Linked DNA regions of Homo sapiens: region 2 is linked to region 1. Evidence: fine-mapped expression QTL. A gene starts in region 1. The other region holds a variant in brackets. All regions are shown on one strand. Distances are from middle to middle. Region 1 holds the start of ARMC8 (armadillo repeat containing 8). Region 2 overlaps ARMC8 (armadillo repeat containing 8).

What was found.
Region 2: its variant is fine-mapped to the expression of ARMC8 in whole blood (INTERVAL, PIP 0.95).

What each region holds. Positions count from the first base shown.
Region 1 is chr3:138,182,636-138,190,971 of GRCh38, reverse strand. It overlaps ARMC8 (armadillo repeat containing 8), which reads right to left and starts at 3,671. Exons shown (of 22, transcript NM_001363941.2): 1 at 3,373-3,671. The coding sequence starts at 3,417.
Region 2 is chr3:138,283,800-138,292,135 of GRCh38, reverse strand. It overlaps ARMC8 (armadillo repeat containing 8), which reads right to left. Exons shown (of 22, transcript NM_001363941.2): 19 at 7,610-7,705; 20 at 3,016-3,088; 21 at 1,497-1,590. It also overlaps a transcript of NME9 not described here. Among named protein-coding and RNA genes, the nearest start is that of NME9, 42 kb to the left of the region's middle. The variant C/T (reference allele first, on the strand shown) is at 3,940.

The sequences.
Region 1 (8,336 bases):
TCCTATTGCCCTCCATATTAGATCAGTTTCCTCTATGACATGTTTTGAACAGCACCCTATATACTTCATTCATAATACTAATCACCATTCACAAACTGTGTGATTATTTGATATCTATTTTTCCCACTAGGCTAACATTTCCAAAAGGACAGAGGTCTGTGTAGCTTACGGCTGTATTCCCAAACTCAACACCATGCTTGCCTAGCAAATGGCAGAAGCTCAAAGTAGATGTACAGAATATATATATACAAAGTTAAAATTCATATGTACAAATGAGTAAGAAGAATAAGATTTACTGGAGTTTGGAAGAATTCTGTATCACTCTAACCTGAGAAAGCCGGTTTATACAGGATAGCAGGTTCATGTAGAAGATAAAGAATCTCGGCCGGGTGCAGTGGCTCACACCTGTAATCCCAGCACTTTGGGAGGCCAAGGTGGGTGGATCACTTGAGGTCAGGAGTTTGAGACCAGCCTGGCCAACATGGTGAGACTCTGTCTCTACTAAAAATACAAAAAAATTAGCCAGGCATGGTAGTGGATGCCTGTAATCCCAGCTACTCAGGAGACTGAGGCAGGAGAATCGCTTGAACCCCGGAGGCGGTGGTTGCAGTGAGTCGAGATTGCGCCACTGCACTCCAGTCTGGGCAACAAGAGCAAAACTCCATCTCAAAAAAAAAAAAAAAAAAAAAAGATAAGAAAATAAAGAATCTCAACTCTGAAGCTGAATATAAACTTGGGCCTTTGGGCAAAACAAATTCAATCAAGAAAAGAAACCGAGGAGCGGCTGTAGGAAGAGTTCTTTAGGAAAATTTAAGTAGACATGGACTTGCACTGAGAGTGTAAGACATTAAAGACAGTAAAAATAATTAAAAGGACGCTGTGGTAGTGCAGGCACAAAACAACAAAGTCCTGAATGAGGGTGGTCATGGGAAGAGAAAGATATAAGAAACACTAAGAATAAAGAAGCAACAGAGCTTAACAACTGGTAGATACAGGGGGATGAAAGGAGGAAGAATCAGAGATTATTCAGGAGGTTTAACAGTTACTTATCAGTGAAAGATAACACCATTAACAGAAATTGGGAACTCATAACTAATTCCCCTTAGGAGAAGGAATGTGCTTTATTGGAAGCGATGGGTGTCATCCACACAATTTAAGATGTAAGACTAGATGTAGAAGAAAGTCAAGGTTGGCAATGCAGATGTGTGAACTGATCAGTTAAGGGTACAGGAAAATCAATGAGATTTCCCAAGGAGAAGGTATAAAGAGACTCAAATGGAAATCCTTTAAAACAACTTGAATGCCTCCTTGCTGAAATTATGTTTATCAAATTATAGCGTCACCCAGACTATGAGCTCCTGAAACGCATTTCTGATCTCATCCTTGCATTCTCTAACGTATACAATACAGAGCTTGTACGTAACTGGTACATTGTAGCTTATTAAAGGAATCAACCATTCAAGATAATTTCTGATGAATGTTTCCTGTTCTAGTTTGCATTTCAAAACATGGTGCTCTGGGTAGTACTTTGAAAGGTACAGGTTTCACTTTAAATTAGTAAAATCAGTGAATTGAAACATTTTAAATCATTTATCCAAAAGCTCCTACTTCCCCAAGGCTCTAGGAGTGAAGATCTGATAGACCAGACTTTGGGACTACGGAAATCCTTTTTTTTTAATTAAAGAAAAAAAAAAGCCCCTAATGAGACTAGGGCTAAAGGCAAATCCTAAATAGAAGTATTAATAGAAAATACTCTTCAAGAAGTTTTTGAATAAAATAAGCAGAAAATATTATTTACCAAGGAAGTGAAACAAATGAAAACTTTCAATCATATGCATTATACAAGTTGACAACATCCAAAAAGTAAACTTCAGGTGAACTGAAGGATAAATGAAATCTAAATGAATAATTAAAGGAGAACTGAGAACAGCCAAGACACATACTATTTTTTTTTAACATAATGAGGTAAAAGTCATTGGCCTGCACTCCCACAGAATATTCCTGGGTATTACAGTCAGTGATGGAGTAACAGGCTAATCTGATCTAATACTTAGGTAAACAGTATTTCCTTAGTTGCAGTTTAAAAATAAGAAAAAATGACTGCTAAAATGGATCAGGGGAAAAATCTGTTGACAGCCTCACAAAATTATTATTGTATTGACAACTTAAGCCTTTTCAAGGTTGAGGTCTGCCACACTGCTCTAACCCTGAATCATAAGCAAATGTCCTAGGTGTTTTCAGATAGGTGAGTTTGTTTGTGGGACAAGTCAGAGAAGAGAAAAGAAACCGGTTGTAGTTACAAGACTCTAGGAACCCGACAAGTCATTTATAATCCAACTACCCTCTCAGTATCAGACTGGCTTCCACAAGTCTAAAAGATGGTCAATCAGTATTTGCCTGCTTGTTTCCAACAATAGCAAATGAACCATTGGTAAACTGACCATTCTCAGAGTCGGACAGCTCGAATTTGTTGCAAAATCCTTCGAAGTTATCTCCCAGTAACTTTCATTCCTGGTCCTGGTTCAAGAGCAACATAGTGAAAGGTGAAAGTCGTCTTTTTCTTTAAAAAAACTTTTTTTAAAAAAAAAAAAAACAGGTTTTACTTCCTGGCATGTCAATACGTTCCCTTCTTTCAACAATGGGGAAATAAATCTCACCCCCTTTTCCCCCCTTCAATGTTTGACTCCCCTTAAAGAAAAACGGAATACCAGGCACAGGGAACATAGAGTTCCTCTGACTCAGAGCCGCGACCTCTGAGCAGAGCGGAGGAAAGGGGCTTAAAAAACCACACACACTAGGAAGAGTTGCAGCTGATACGAATCACCATTGCCAAAAAGCAAACTGCTTCAGCCGGTGCCCAGGTGCTGGGACGCGATAGAAGCCGCACAGACTTGGCCTGGCAGCTCTGAGGAAATGGGGGCCAAGGAGCCTGCACCTCTTCTTGCCAAAGCCCGGGAGAGCTGAGTGGGCGCTCGTTCTCAGGCCGGCTGCAAGCCCGGCGCTTCACAAGGCAGAGCGTTCGGCCCCCGGGAAGCGGCATCGCTAAAAGGAAGGCTCAGTGAAACGCTTGGCAAAGTCCAAGCCGCGCCGCCCAGCCAGTTGTCTATAAGCCCAGCCACCCCGCCTGCCAGACGCCATCCTGGGAACCCGCACCGGCGGGAGCTCCCGGAGTTGGAAACGTCTTTGGCTCGGCCGCGGTCCCCTCTGCCCGTCTATCCCGCCTCTCCACCCTCGCTCACTCCCTGGCCCGAGACTGAGCCGGGGTCCACCCCAGGGGGTGGTGCCCAGGAGGCACACCACGCTTGGGGGAATGGTGGAGACCGGGATGAGGCTTCCTGGAGGGCGGGCGGGCGGCCGCGGCGGGTCACTCACCGAAAGGACGCTCATGCGGATTGGGGTCTCCAACAAGCACGCCATCTTGAGCCTTCCCACCCGGCTGCTGCAGGCGCCGGCGCGGGGGCCGGCACTTTCGACAGCCAACTATTGGCCAACGCTAGGCACCGCTCCCTAAAGGCAGCCAGATAGACGAGAACTGGCCACGCTCTGGACACCGCTCAAGTACCGGAAAGGCCCGCAGAAAGAAGGGCAAAAGGGAATGGCGTCAGGGGCTGTCCTACGAATCGTTCTCTCAGAAACAGCAGCTACTCTGAGCCTGGGTTAGAGGTGGAAGCGGGCAGCGGTTTCCGCATGCGCAAAGAAGATCTGCCGGCCCCACCTGCCGCTCGCGGTGGGCGGGGCCCCAGAGGCGGAGTCTCGCCCTGACGCTACGAGTTTTACGGACTGATAAATTGCAGTTTATGGATTCCAGTATTCATATTTGGAAAAAGTAGTACGTGGAGCCACATACATAGTTTGAAGTTCACTTTCATATTCATTCTCTCTCTCTGCACCAAACTCCCGGCGTCGTTATCTCCATTTTATAGGTGGGGAAATTGCGATCCCAGAACCTTTGCCAACCGTAAGAGTGATTGTTTCACGATCCGATACAGATACGTGACTTGCCTTAGCGTTGTGTGCCGGCCCCGTTTATTCTGGTGTAGTGTTAAGAATAGCCAGAATGCTTGGGTTTCTTCCTAGCTACTTGATTTATCAGCTGCTTTACCCTGGGCAAGTTATCTAACCTTCTGTTTGAGTTTCCTCATCTATAAAATAAAGGTTAATGAGGATAGAGGAGTCAACAAACGTGAAGCTCTCAGAAAAAACCTAGAACATAGAAAGCGTTATACAATATGTGTTAACATTTCTCCAGCTTCTGAGTTAAGTGGGGAAAATGGGGGCAAATATCTAAATATTTCGCACTAAAACACTCTCATAACCGAAGCTAAATAAAAGTATGCTTTCAATTATACTTGATTAATTCAGCTGTCCTACTACTTTGTGTGTGTGTGTGTGTGTGTGTGCAACACTGCCCTTGACTTGGTTGGATAAGTTTCACCTTCGTACTGCTTGCAACCAGTAAGGTTTTCACAGTATGGTTGCAATTGGCCTGTTAACATTACTTGTATTCCTTCCATTTCTATAGCCACACCCTAATTCAGGCTCTTGTAACCTCTCCCCTGGACTACAGCAATAGCCTTCCAACTGGTCTTGTAGCTGGTAGCCTCTCCCGCACTCTGCTCCTCACTGTTTTCCTGTCTTCCTCCTGTACTTGGTTTCCAAATTTAGTGTAGCATTTACCACCCCTGCTTATGGGTCTGTGTTCCTTAACAAACTGTTGAATTCCTGGAAGGCAGGAATTTTATTTTAGGTAGTCCTTCTGCTATAATACTATTTCTGAAACTTGGGTAATCTGTACACCACCTACACAATCTTTGCCAATCTGCACCTAGGTATTATTATTCATTCAATATTTTTATTTAAAGCCAATTTCAACTCATTAAAAATTTTTGGCTTTATCCTAAACCATAATACTCTGTGAAATCAAGTTTGTTGTGCTCCTTATTTTTATTCTAGTACACATTAACTACAAAAAGTTTAAATGTCCATCCATGGACCACCTAAAATCACATCATGTACTGCATACTGCAATGGGGCAGAACATAACCCTAATACATAGTATATAGAGTCATTATAACTGTATTTGATCCACACTCCATCCATTAGCTCAAGCAATACATCCTCCAGGAATTGTCTCCCCCAGGCATGGGTTAGATACCCTTTCCCCCATGCCTTCATACTTCACTTTAATTGTAGGGTGGTTTTGTTGTTGTTAATTGTTTCCGTGTTTGTCTCACTATACACTTCAAGACAGGCACTGGGAGTTTTATCTTCTAGGTTGTCTATCTCAGTGCCTAGCACAGTCACTTAGTAAATGTTTGTTGTACGAATTTTTGGCTTAGTTTGAGCCTGGGACGAAGATTTGGGTGCATTTTGTTTATTTAGTAAGTGCTTTCAGGGAACAAAATTGATAGGTCAGGGAGAGTGAAAAAAGAAAGAATAAATATTCAAGATAATTGTCCATTATTGATGCCACTGTTTATTCCTCAATCACCTCTGAAAACATACAGAATACCTCTCTGGATTGTCCATCTTGAAGCTACAGCATTCATCCACCAATACCATATGTATTGGTTGAGGATTTCCCTAGGGCTATTAACTCCCTGCCCTCCTGGATTATATTTGTGCCCAGAACAGAACGGGCTTCTTTAACCTGATACAAAAAAGCAGAGTCTGCAGGTTTCATCTTAGGGTGGGATATAGGCAGCATAAATCTGAGCTTGCACAGAACTGTCACTGCTGCTGTGGCTGAAATCCGAGCGGGGAGGAGCTAGAAATGTGACTCAAGACATCTCACACCTCTGTCTGTTACCCAGGCTTTCCTGTTTTATATCCAGAAGACTGACATAGACATTTTACAGGAAGAAAGCATTGAATAGCCAACTCCTAAGCTTGGAGATCAGGAATCTTGCTCCCAGTTCAAATTTTGCTGATAAATAACTTTAGGTACACTCTTAAGTAATGAGTAGAAATTGGAAGATAAAAGGAATTTTTGATTCAGCCTGCATGTGACGATAACAAAACAGTTAAGCATGGGCGCGGTGGCTCACACCTGTAATCACAACACTTTGGGAGGCTGAGGCTGATGGATCACCTGAGTTCAGGAGTTCAAGACCAGCCTGCCCAATATGGCGAAACCCCATCTCTACTAAAAATACAAAAATTAGCCTTGCATAGTGGCATGCACTTGTAGTTCCAGCTACTCGGGAGGCCGAGACAGGAGAATTGCTTGAACCCGGGAAGTGGAGGTTGCAGAAAAAAACAAAAACAGTTAAATTTGGCACTGTGGTGAGGAGAGGAAAATATCCATGCTGACTACTCTGCAAACAGAAATGAAACTTCTCCCTGTCGTTCCATGGCTCTTAGAGCAGTATTAATTTCTGTAAAAAAAAAAAAAAAGACAACAAAGTGTGAGTTTAATGAAGAAAAAAAATGAAATGCAAAACAAGAAGTAGCCAGAAAAAAATCTGAAAAATCTTTATAAATATCTTTGTGGAACTGCCTAAGATGAGAAACAAAGCCAGAGAGAAATGTATCTATACAAAAATAGGAAAGTTTAAAGTGTGGGGAGATAGGTATAATCCAAAACCTGAATGGTCCCAAAAGAAATTTAGAAGAATCTTTAAAAAGACTTGAAAACGGGCTGGGCACGGTGGCTCACACCTGTAATCCCAGCACTTTGGGAGGCCGAGGTGGGTGGATCACCTGAGGCCGGGAGTTCGAGACCAGCCTGACCAACATGGAGAAATCCCGTCTCTACTAAAAATACAAAAAAATTAGCTGGGCATGGTGGCGGATGCCTGTAATCCCAGCTACTCGGGAGGCTGAGGCAGGAGAATCGCCTGAACCCGGGAGGCGGAGGTTGTGGTGAGCCAAGATCGCGCCATTGCACTCCAGCCTGGGCAACAAGTGCGAAACTCGGTCTCAAAAAAAAAAAAAAAAAAAAAAAGGAAAACAGATGAAATACTTTAAATAAAAAAGAAAATGGACTAACAACAGTATAGAGGAGATACAATGCAGTTCAACAGACACTAACTACAGGTTTTCTTGTGAATGCACTGAACTAGAGTTTTGAAGTGGAACAAAGACATGGTTCTTTCCCTCAGCAGACAGGAATAAAAGTGAGACTGTGAGGCTGGGCGCAGTGGCTCACGCCGGTAATCCCAGCACTTTGGGAGGCCGAGGTGGGTGGATTACCTGAGGTCAGGCATTTGAGACAAGCCTGACCAATATGGTGAAACCCCGTCGATACTAAAAATAGAAAAATTAACTAGGCGTGGTGGCACCTGCCTGCAATCCCAGCTACTCGGGAGGCTGAAACAGGAGAACTGCTTGAACCTGGGAGTGGAAGTTGCAGTAAGCTGAGATCGCACCACTGCACTCCAGCCTGGGTGACAGAGCAAGACACTGTCTCAAACAAAAAACAAAAAAAAAACAATGAGACTGTGAGAGGTTCAATAATTTGCTTAAGGTTGCTTGGGGAGTAAGAGGCTGAATCAATTTTGGTACAGGTTTCTCTGGTTCCAAAGTTCTTTCCAGAGCTCCTACAGTCCTCTGGGACTTAATAGGACTTTCCCAGATGAGACTACCGAATGTTCATCTAAGCAACCAACCTATAAAGGAAAGTCCACAAGGGCTTTTGCGGTGGGAAATAATGCATCAATAATTCATCAGGTCCACAGAGGGTGTGAAATGTATATGCCTGGCCAGGCGCAGTGGCTCATGTCTGTAGTCCCAGCACTTTGGGAGGCGGAGATGGGCTGACTTGAGCTGAGCTCAGGAGTTCAAGACCAGCCTGGGCAACATGGCAAAATCCCTTTGCTACCAAAAAAAAAAAACCAAAGCAAGAATTAGCCAGGCATGGTGCCTTGAGCTTGTGGTCCCAGCTGCTTGGGAGGCCAAGGTGGGAGGATGGCTTGAGCCCAGAAGGCAGGGGTTGCAGTGAGCTGAAATGGTGGCACTGCACTCCAGCCTGGGTGACAGAGTGAAACCATGTCTCAGAATAAAAACTAAAAAGAAAATAAAAGAAATATGTGTATGGCTAAAATAGAAGTAGTGAGATGTTTACAAAGTTTTAAAATTAGAAACCACAGTAAAAAAGAAAATACTCATTTAAAAATTGAATTACTGCTATGGTAGAATTCCAACTTACAAATGTAGAAGAAATGATAGAATTAGAAAATCAGGCTGGGTGCAGTAGCTCACACCTGTAATCTCAGCACTTTGGGAGACCAAGGCGGGTGCACTTGAGACCAGGAGTTTGAGACCAGCCTGGTCAACATGGCAAAAACCTGCCTCTACTAAAAATACAAAAATTAGCTGGGCATGGTGGCGCACAG
Region 2 (8,336 bases), 100 kb before region 1:
AACTCAGGAGGCAGAGGTTTCAGTGAGCCAAGATCACGCCATTGCACTCCAGCCTGGGCAACAAGAGTGAAACTCCATCTCGAAAGAAAAGAAAAGAAAGAAAAAAAGAAAAAGGAAAAGGAAAAAAGGAATTCAAATCAGATAATGTCTCCTCTCCTTAACAGTCTCCAATGATTTCCTATTAAACTCTGAATAAAAGCCAAAGTCCTTACCTTACCTACAAGGCTCTTCATGGTCTGGATTCTTCCACCTATTAGCATTCTCCCTCTCCATATTTTTCATTAGCCCTCTGTTCTTCTTGCTGTTTCTTGAACATACCAAGTTCACTCCTGCTTCAGGGCCTTTGAACCCACTATCACCCCTGTCTGTAATACTCTTCCTCTATGCATTTGCCCAGATGAAATCTTCCTTATTTCATTCAGGTCTCTGATCATGTCATCCTCAGAGAGATCTTTACTAGCTAACCTAAAATAAATTTTCTTGATTCTCCATTCCTTCACCTTGCTTTATTTTTCTTCATGGTACCTCTCATCACCTGATACTGTGTTACGTATTCATTTGCTTATCATCTATCTTCTATACTAGAATGTAAGTTACACGAGGGCAAAGACTTCATCAATTTTATTCACCATTATATCTCCAGTGCCTAAAACAATGCCTGGCAGAAGGCAGGTATTCAAAAGAGATATCTGATGAATGAATGGGGACTCAGAGGAGAGGAGACTGGGATAGCAAAGTAGATGGAACAGAATGTGTAAATGCACGAAGGTGTGCTACTGTAAGCGGACAGGTATGGCTGCAGTATGGGGTGTACATGGTGGGTGCAGAGAAGATGAGAAAGGCAGAGCCAGACCATTAAGGGCTGAAGGGCTTCTAAGCCATGCTCAAGAGTCTAGAGACTCAAAAGTACTGATGTTCCCTGATTTGTTATTATACAAAGGTGAAATGGAAAGTGAAGGCTGTTACAAGGGAGAACACACAGCTAGGAAGAGCATTTATGGCTATTTTGAGGTTAGCTGAGTATCTGATTATAACTCTTGACTCTACCAGGAAATGATGAGCTCTTTGAGGACAGTGATTCCTTAGTGGTAGCTTTTGTATCCCCAGGAGCTGGGCCAGCCTGGCACAAAACGGGTGTTCAGTGAGGTTTTGAGCTAATGAATGTTTGCATTACTGGTTTTTCTGCTTTCCAAAATGCCACATGCATGTCTATTCTAATGATCAGGCGAATGTACGCAAATGGCCTCTGGATCCAATCCACTAAGATGGCCCAGACTCACGTGAATTCACAATAAGATGAGAGTCTTTAATAATTTGGTAATTATTAGTTTACAGCTCACTCAAATGTCGTACAGTGGCTCATAGAAAATTATGAAGAAAATCTAAGAATCTAAAAGATTTTAAAAAGTATGGCCATTAATTACCAAGCAATTCAAACCCTTTCACGAAAGAATCCAACACAGCCCAAAGCAAGGCCTTTTCACATTCATACTCACTTGTCACAAAGGTTTGAATCTGGTGACTGACTCAGTTTGTGTAGAATATCTACGATGCCCATGTCTCGTAATTTATCCTGGCGTTCTTGTGAACCTAAACGATTAAAGCCAGGTTACTGGGAACATGACCCAGGCAAATGCTCTCTTTGATGTACAATTAACAATCTAGAGCCTTACCAGTGTCCTTCACTCCCTACTCCTCCTGTACCCCTTGTCCTCTACCCTCTCCCAATGTAGTTGGACCCGCTCATGCTTGGACTCTCTGACAGTCTTCTAACTCGTCTCTCTGCCTCCTGATCATCCTGCCTGCAGTCTATCCTGGGTTCTGCAGTTGGACTGATTTCTCCATGGACTACAGGGTCAAGGTGAGATTCTTCAGCCTGGTACAAGGCCCTCTGCCACTGACTCCCAGCTTCACCACTTCTTTCAGGACATACCCATGGCCCTGGCCAGACCAGGCCAGGCTCTTACTACTCTAAGCAGGTCTTATCTTCCCCTTTCTATTGTCTTCTACCCTCCTCTGTCCTCCCAGCACTTTTTGTTGCCTCTCAGCACAGCTGGCACTTCCAATTTCATATCATTCTGTTCTATCTTCCAACTAGACTAACATCTCCTTGAGGGTGGCTTTGTCTCCCCAGTACACAAGTGGTACGTGGTATCTAGGTCTGTGGGCGGAATCCAGTTTCCCTTCTTGCACTTTGTTTTGGGCGCTGCTGCTGAGTAATCCCCTGGAGTCTTCCCCACTGAAGAGCCCACAGTGACCACTCATATACTGGCTCTCTCTAGACTCAGTGAATCAGAATTTCTAGGGATGGGGCCCAGAAATCTGCACTTTAAAAACTTCCCCAGGTGATTCTAATGCAGCCAACCCAGCCTTGAGACCCACTGCTCTCCTGTATTTGCTACCTTGGCTATATATTGGAATCATCTGGGGAGCTTTAAGAACCACTTATGCCTGGAGCCCACCCCGAGAGATTCTGATTTAATTGGCCTGGTGTAAAAATTCCCAGGTGATTCTAATATGCAGCCAAAGTAAAGAACCTCTGATCTATACAGGCCTCCTTACAGACTAGCTGCTTCACTGGTCACATTGCACTTCTCATTTCTCACAAATGCACCTTCTTCTCCATCATGCTTATCTGCCTGTAGTCCTCATATGTGCTTCCTCTGCTCAAAACGAAAGGCTCATCCTCCCACCCACTCTCTCCTCTCACCTTCTTCAAGTGCATCTCACCATCCTCCTCATCAGCTCTCTCCTGGCAGGGACTGTCACTTACTTCTCACTCTCCCTCCTTGAATCTGGTATAGAGTTGGCTCCAACGGGGCACTCAGTGTTGACTGACCAGCTGACTTGGGCTAGTTCCACTGATTCTCATACCAGGGCAACTCTAGAGGGTGCTTGGGCCAGATGGTCCAAGAACAGAGCCTCTGCCCAGGATCTCAGGGGCACCTGCTAGCTTCCCTGTGCAAGACACTCTTCCCATAATTTTTTTCAAAACAAATCTCACCAATCTCTTACCTTCCTCTTCATTCCATATGAGGTTTGATATACAAAACATGGCTGCAAGCTGCAGTTTAACATGTGAATGGCCCTATTAATACAGAAAAAGAAAAAAAAATCAAAATGGTGGTAATCTCATTTTAGATTTTTTTTTGGGGGGACCTACCATAGCCAATTCCTATAACCTAAAAGTCTGAAGCAGGGCCAGGTGAGGTGGCTCATGCCTGTAATCCCAGCACTTTGGGAGACCAAGGCAGGTGGAAGATCGAGGTCAGGTGTTCGAGACTAGGATGATTAACACAGTGAAACCCTGTCTCTACTAAAAATACAAAAATTTGCCGGGTGTAGTGGCGGGCGCCTGTAATCTCAGCTACTAGGGAGGCTGAGGCAGGAGAATCGCCTGAACCTGGGAGGCAGAGGTTGCAGTGAGCTGAGATCGTGCCATTGCACTCAGCCTGGGTGACAGAGCGAGACTCCGTCTCAAAAAAAAAAAAAAAAAAAAAGTCTGAAGAAGAGTCCTCAAACTCAAATGTCTTGAGGGGCCATGAAGTTAACACTAATGAGTAGAAGGGTTGGGCTAAAGATAACAAGGGACAGTGGAGAATCTGGCAAATTGAGGAGTACAAGCCTTGCCAAAAGACATGCAAATTCAAATTTAAAAAACCATCTGGCTGGACAAACAAAACACCTCTAGGGCTATGGGTACAGTTTGCAATTTATGATTCAATCCATGCACGAGGAAACACTGTCATATGACAATTCTATGCTTTCGACTTAGGCTATGTTTCCAGGTCACCAACAGCCAACATACACTGGGTGGATGTGCATTTGGTATTTATCTCTTAAGCTACTGGTTATCTTATTCAAATGGCCCAATAATTCCTTTGGGGAAGAAAGTGAATATATGGTCATGAAGTTCTGTAACACCTAGACTTTCACACA[C/T]ACACAATCTATAAATGGCTTACTCCTCTGACACAACTTGCTGAAAACAAGAAGCATTATATAATACATTCAGCTTCTGGAATAATTAAATTACTCCTATTTCTAAAGGAATATCCCCAAAAACTTGATGAAATCGCTAGTTGATTTCTCAAATGTCTTTACTATCACTAATGAGCCTCCTATTCTTCTAAATACAATTCTTATTTATTTTGCTTTATGTACTGAAAGTACAACCATTTCTGGTTGCTTTGGATAGGGTGTTTTCGCCTGAATGAAAAAGGACTCAATAATAAAATAAACTTTATAGATGATTGTCCTATTGGTCAATAAAAAAAATTTCTAGTATGTTCAAATAATTTATGCACATCTGAGAGAGTATCAATGGCAAAATATGCTCAATGGTTTTTTCAAGGCTAAGACAGACTTATCTTCTCATGTAGGACTATATTTCAACTAAGCAGAGACAAAGAAATGGATGTGGCTTCCTCCAGTAGAATTCTATGGCTAGTGATTCTTTCTTCTTCTAACTGCCAACACTTTTAAGGAGATGTCCAGTTTGGGCTCCCTTAAGACAAAACAGAATAAAACTTATCTGCTCCCAGCCTCAGACAATCAATCAATATTTGTTGAATAAATGAGCTTGTATATACTATAACAAATATGCATTTACTATGCATAAGTTTATTCATCATTCAATATTTTTTAAGGACACAAATTACTATGAGGATAGAGAAAATTGGAGGGTGGAGGGGTGGGAACTTAATTTAGGTGGAATGCACAAAACAGATCTCTTTGAGGGTGGCAATACTTAAACAGAGACTTAAAGAATAGGAAGGTGCCAGATGTGCAAAGAGCAAGGGGCTTGAAATTCCAAGCAGGAGAAAAAGTTCCTGAAAAGGTCTGAAGTAAGAAGGAGCTGTCTGTTCAGAGAAGTAGGTGTAGCCAAATTGTGCCAACTTGTAGGCCACAGTAAGGACTCTGGATTTCATTCTGTGTTGAGAGGAAGCCCCTGAAAGATTTAAACAGTGGAGGGACAAGATCTGATTTACATTTTTAGAAGACCAGTTGGGCTGAAGGGATTGGAGTGACAGTGAGGAAGTGTCAAGGAAGATACTGTTATATAGTTAATCAGGCATAAGGTGCTGTGACTTGGACTGACTAGGGTGGGGGCAGTGGTGATGAAAAGGAGTAATTGGATTCAAGATCAGTTTTGGAAGAAGGGCAGATAGGACTTGTTGATAAATTGAGTGAATGAGGGGACAGAGCTGGAGAAATCAAGATAGATTCCAAGATGCTATCAGACAGCCACATGGAGATGCTGAAAGGGCAGGCGGATATGTAAGTCCAGAGTTTGGAAGAGAGGTCTAGGCTGGGAAACACATTTGGAAATTACAGTGTATTGTCAGCACAGTGATGATAGTATAAGCTATGGGGGTGGATGAGATTCTCCTAAGGCAATGGTTCTCAACTCTGTCTGTACGTAAGAACCACCCAGTGATCTTAAAAAAAAATCCTGATGCCCAGGCTATAACCCTAGATCTATTAAATAAGAATCTTGGGAGGGAGGAGACAAAGCAGTAATCTTTGAAAGCTCCCTACGAGGTCCTATTGTACAATGAAGGTTGTGATCTGCTGATCTCAGGAGAGCACGTGTAGAAGAGAAGAGAAAAGGGTCCAGAGATAGGTAGGGAGGTATGGTGTCACGCAAGCCAAGAGAAAAGGATATTTCCAGGAGGAGGAAATAGTCAGCTGGGTTGAAGTCTGCTGTAAGTGGGGTAAGATGAAAAGAGAAAAGGATCCTTTGGATTTGGCATCATGGAAGTCATTGGTGGCCCTAAGTTTCAGTTGAATGATGGGGGTAGAGGTGAAACAGAGGAGGTTAAAAAATGACTTTAGAGGCAGAGGAGGAGGCCGTATGTACAGAAAAGATGCTTTTAAGAAGTCTGGCTTTGAAGGTTGGGCGCAGTGGCTCATGCCTGTAATCCCAGCACTTTGGGAGGCCGAGACAGGTGGATCATTTGAGATCAGGAGTTTGAGACCAGCCTGGCCAACATGGTGAAACCCCATCTCTTCTAAAAATACAAAAATTAGCCGGGCAATAGTGCCGCGCCTGTAATCCCAGCTACTCAGGAGGCTGAGGCAGGAGAATCGCTTGAACCTACAGGTGGAAGTTGTGGTGAGCCAAGATCGCGTCACTGCACTCTAGTCTGGGTGACAGAGTGAGACCCTGTCTCAAAATAAAAAGAAGTTTGGCTTTGTCTTTGAATAACAGAGAAATGGGTATGTCTCGATGGGTATGAGAAGTTAAGGAAAACTTTTTAAGTGATTATGGATACAGTGTGGATTAGTATTGGAAAGATAAGGGAATCCCTGGTTGAAGTGGTAAGGTTTTCATTCAACAAATATTTACCAAGCATATGCTAAGGGCCAGACACCATGGTGGATATACAGTTGTGCACAAAGCTGACATGGTCCCTGCCCTCATGGAACTTACGCTGTGGTAAAGACACCCAGTAGGCACACAAACATATATCACTAAAACTGAGCTAAGTGCTCTGAAGGAAGTGAACAAAATGCAGTAATGAGGAATAATCTATAAGGGCAAGAGTCCAGTAAGAAAGTATAAGTTCAGCTGAGATTTGAAGGGTGAAACAGAGAGAAGAAAAGTGTTCCAGGCAGAGAAGCCAGTATGTGTGAAGGTCCCAAGGAAGGAAAGAACGTGGCCTTTTTGAGAAACTTCAAGTGGCCAGTGTAGTGAACAAAGGAAGAGAGGAATAAGATAAGTTGGGGATATGAATGGGTTAGGTCACGTAGGACTTGACAGGCCATCATAAAGGCATACGAACTTTATTCAAGGTATAACAAGGAGCCACTGAAGGATTTTAGTTTCTCTTCTCTTAATAAGACAAAAAGCTGAGGTCATCACTAACTGTAATGGGGGAGGGAAGAGGTGAGGTCTAAAGAATGAGGGGCAGGTAAGAATATATTCTCATGGAGAATGAGGGTGCCAGCTTCCTAGAGAATCACTGAAGGACACTAGGAGGAGCTGTGCCCATGTGGGGTTCTGTGCCTTTCTCTGCAGTTGTTAACTCTGACATGGCAGGGATAGAGAAGACAGATAGGTGTGACAAGGGGAGGCTTCCTCCATGATTAGAATTTTGTCAGGAGATGTTGACAGAATGAGAAGTGGAGGGCTTTTTGATACCCACATTTTGGCAATGGGCAGTCTCTGGTGATGATCAGATGCAGGATATGGCCATGGCAGTAGGTAGCAGATTGTTTAGAAGCAAACAGGTAAAGGAACTATGGTGCCAGGGGGCTAGAGGGTTCATCCACCATGGGACTGAAGCCTTGAGACAGAAGACAGGGACTGGAGGCCACTGAGAGAAAGCCAAGAGCCCGGGTCTTCACTCAGTAAGAGGGAGGCAACCAGTAGATGACAAGGGCAGGGAGTCGACTGGCAGGTAATAATATTACCAAGTGGTACAAGCTTCAAGGAGTTGGTGTTTTTTTCTTTTTCTTCAGGATGGAAGAGAGTTCTTTGAATCTGAGGAGTCACAGAGTAATCTATTCTTTTCCTCTTTTTAAAATCTCTGCACAATTTATTTTGAGTTAAAAATGCAACAGTCCCTGCATTCTAATCCTACGGTGAAAGGGGACAAGGGCTCACCATGTAATACTTGATTTTCTGTAGGATATCATCATTGGTCATAATAAGATCTTTTGCTGTTGTCCCATCCGCTATGTTGGCTAAGATGCACAGTGTCTGGAAAAGAACAAAGGGCCAACAGTCAGGAAAGCTCTGAAGTCCCAGAGTCAAGCTGTCTCAAGAGCTTGGGCAATTTTTCACTTGAAGGTACATGGATTCTCACAGGTTCCACTCTCAATGCCCTGATTTCTCATCTGCTGACATCATTGCTAGTAACAGTAACCACACCCAAACAAAATCTACCTTAGGCAAAAGAGAACCCCAACACTTTGGTGGTTTCTTCCTGAGCTATGGGAAGCCATAGCTGGTCAAAGGCAGCTATTTTGTATAGGTCATACTATCAAATCAAAGAGAAAATGTAACTTATTATTTTTCTTGAAAATCTCATTTCTAAGAGAAGCTCTTGTGACAAACCACAATGTTCCTTCAACAATGTAGTCTCTTTGGTGGAAGCTCTGTAGGTGTTGCAACTCCCCTCCCAGGGAAGCCTCCCTTTCCTAGGCCTCCACCTGCTGCTTGCTCCTAAGCTCATGACCTTCTGGGTGAAGGCCTAGACCCTGTCCACCAGCTACACCAGCCATGTGCACTTAGGACCTTTTAACTTTTTTGAACCCTGTTAGGGGAAGAGAAAAGAAGTAAAATGTATGAAGCAACTTAGTCCAGGCTGGTCTAATGTGAAGACTGGAGG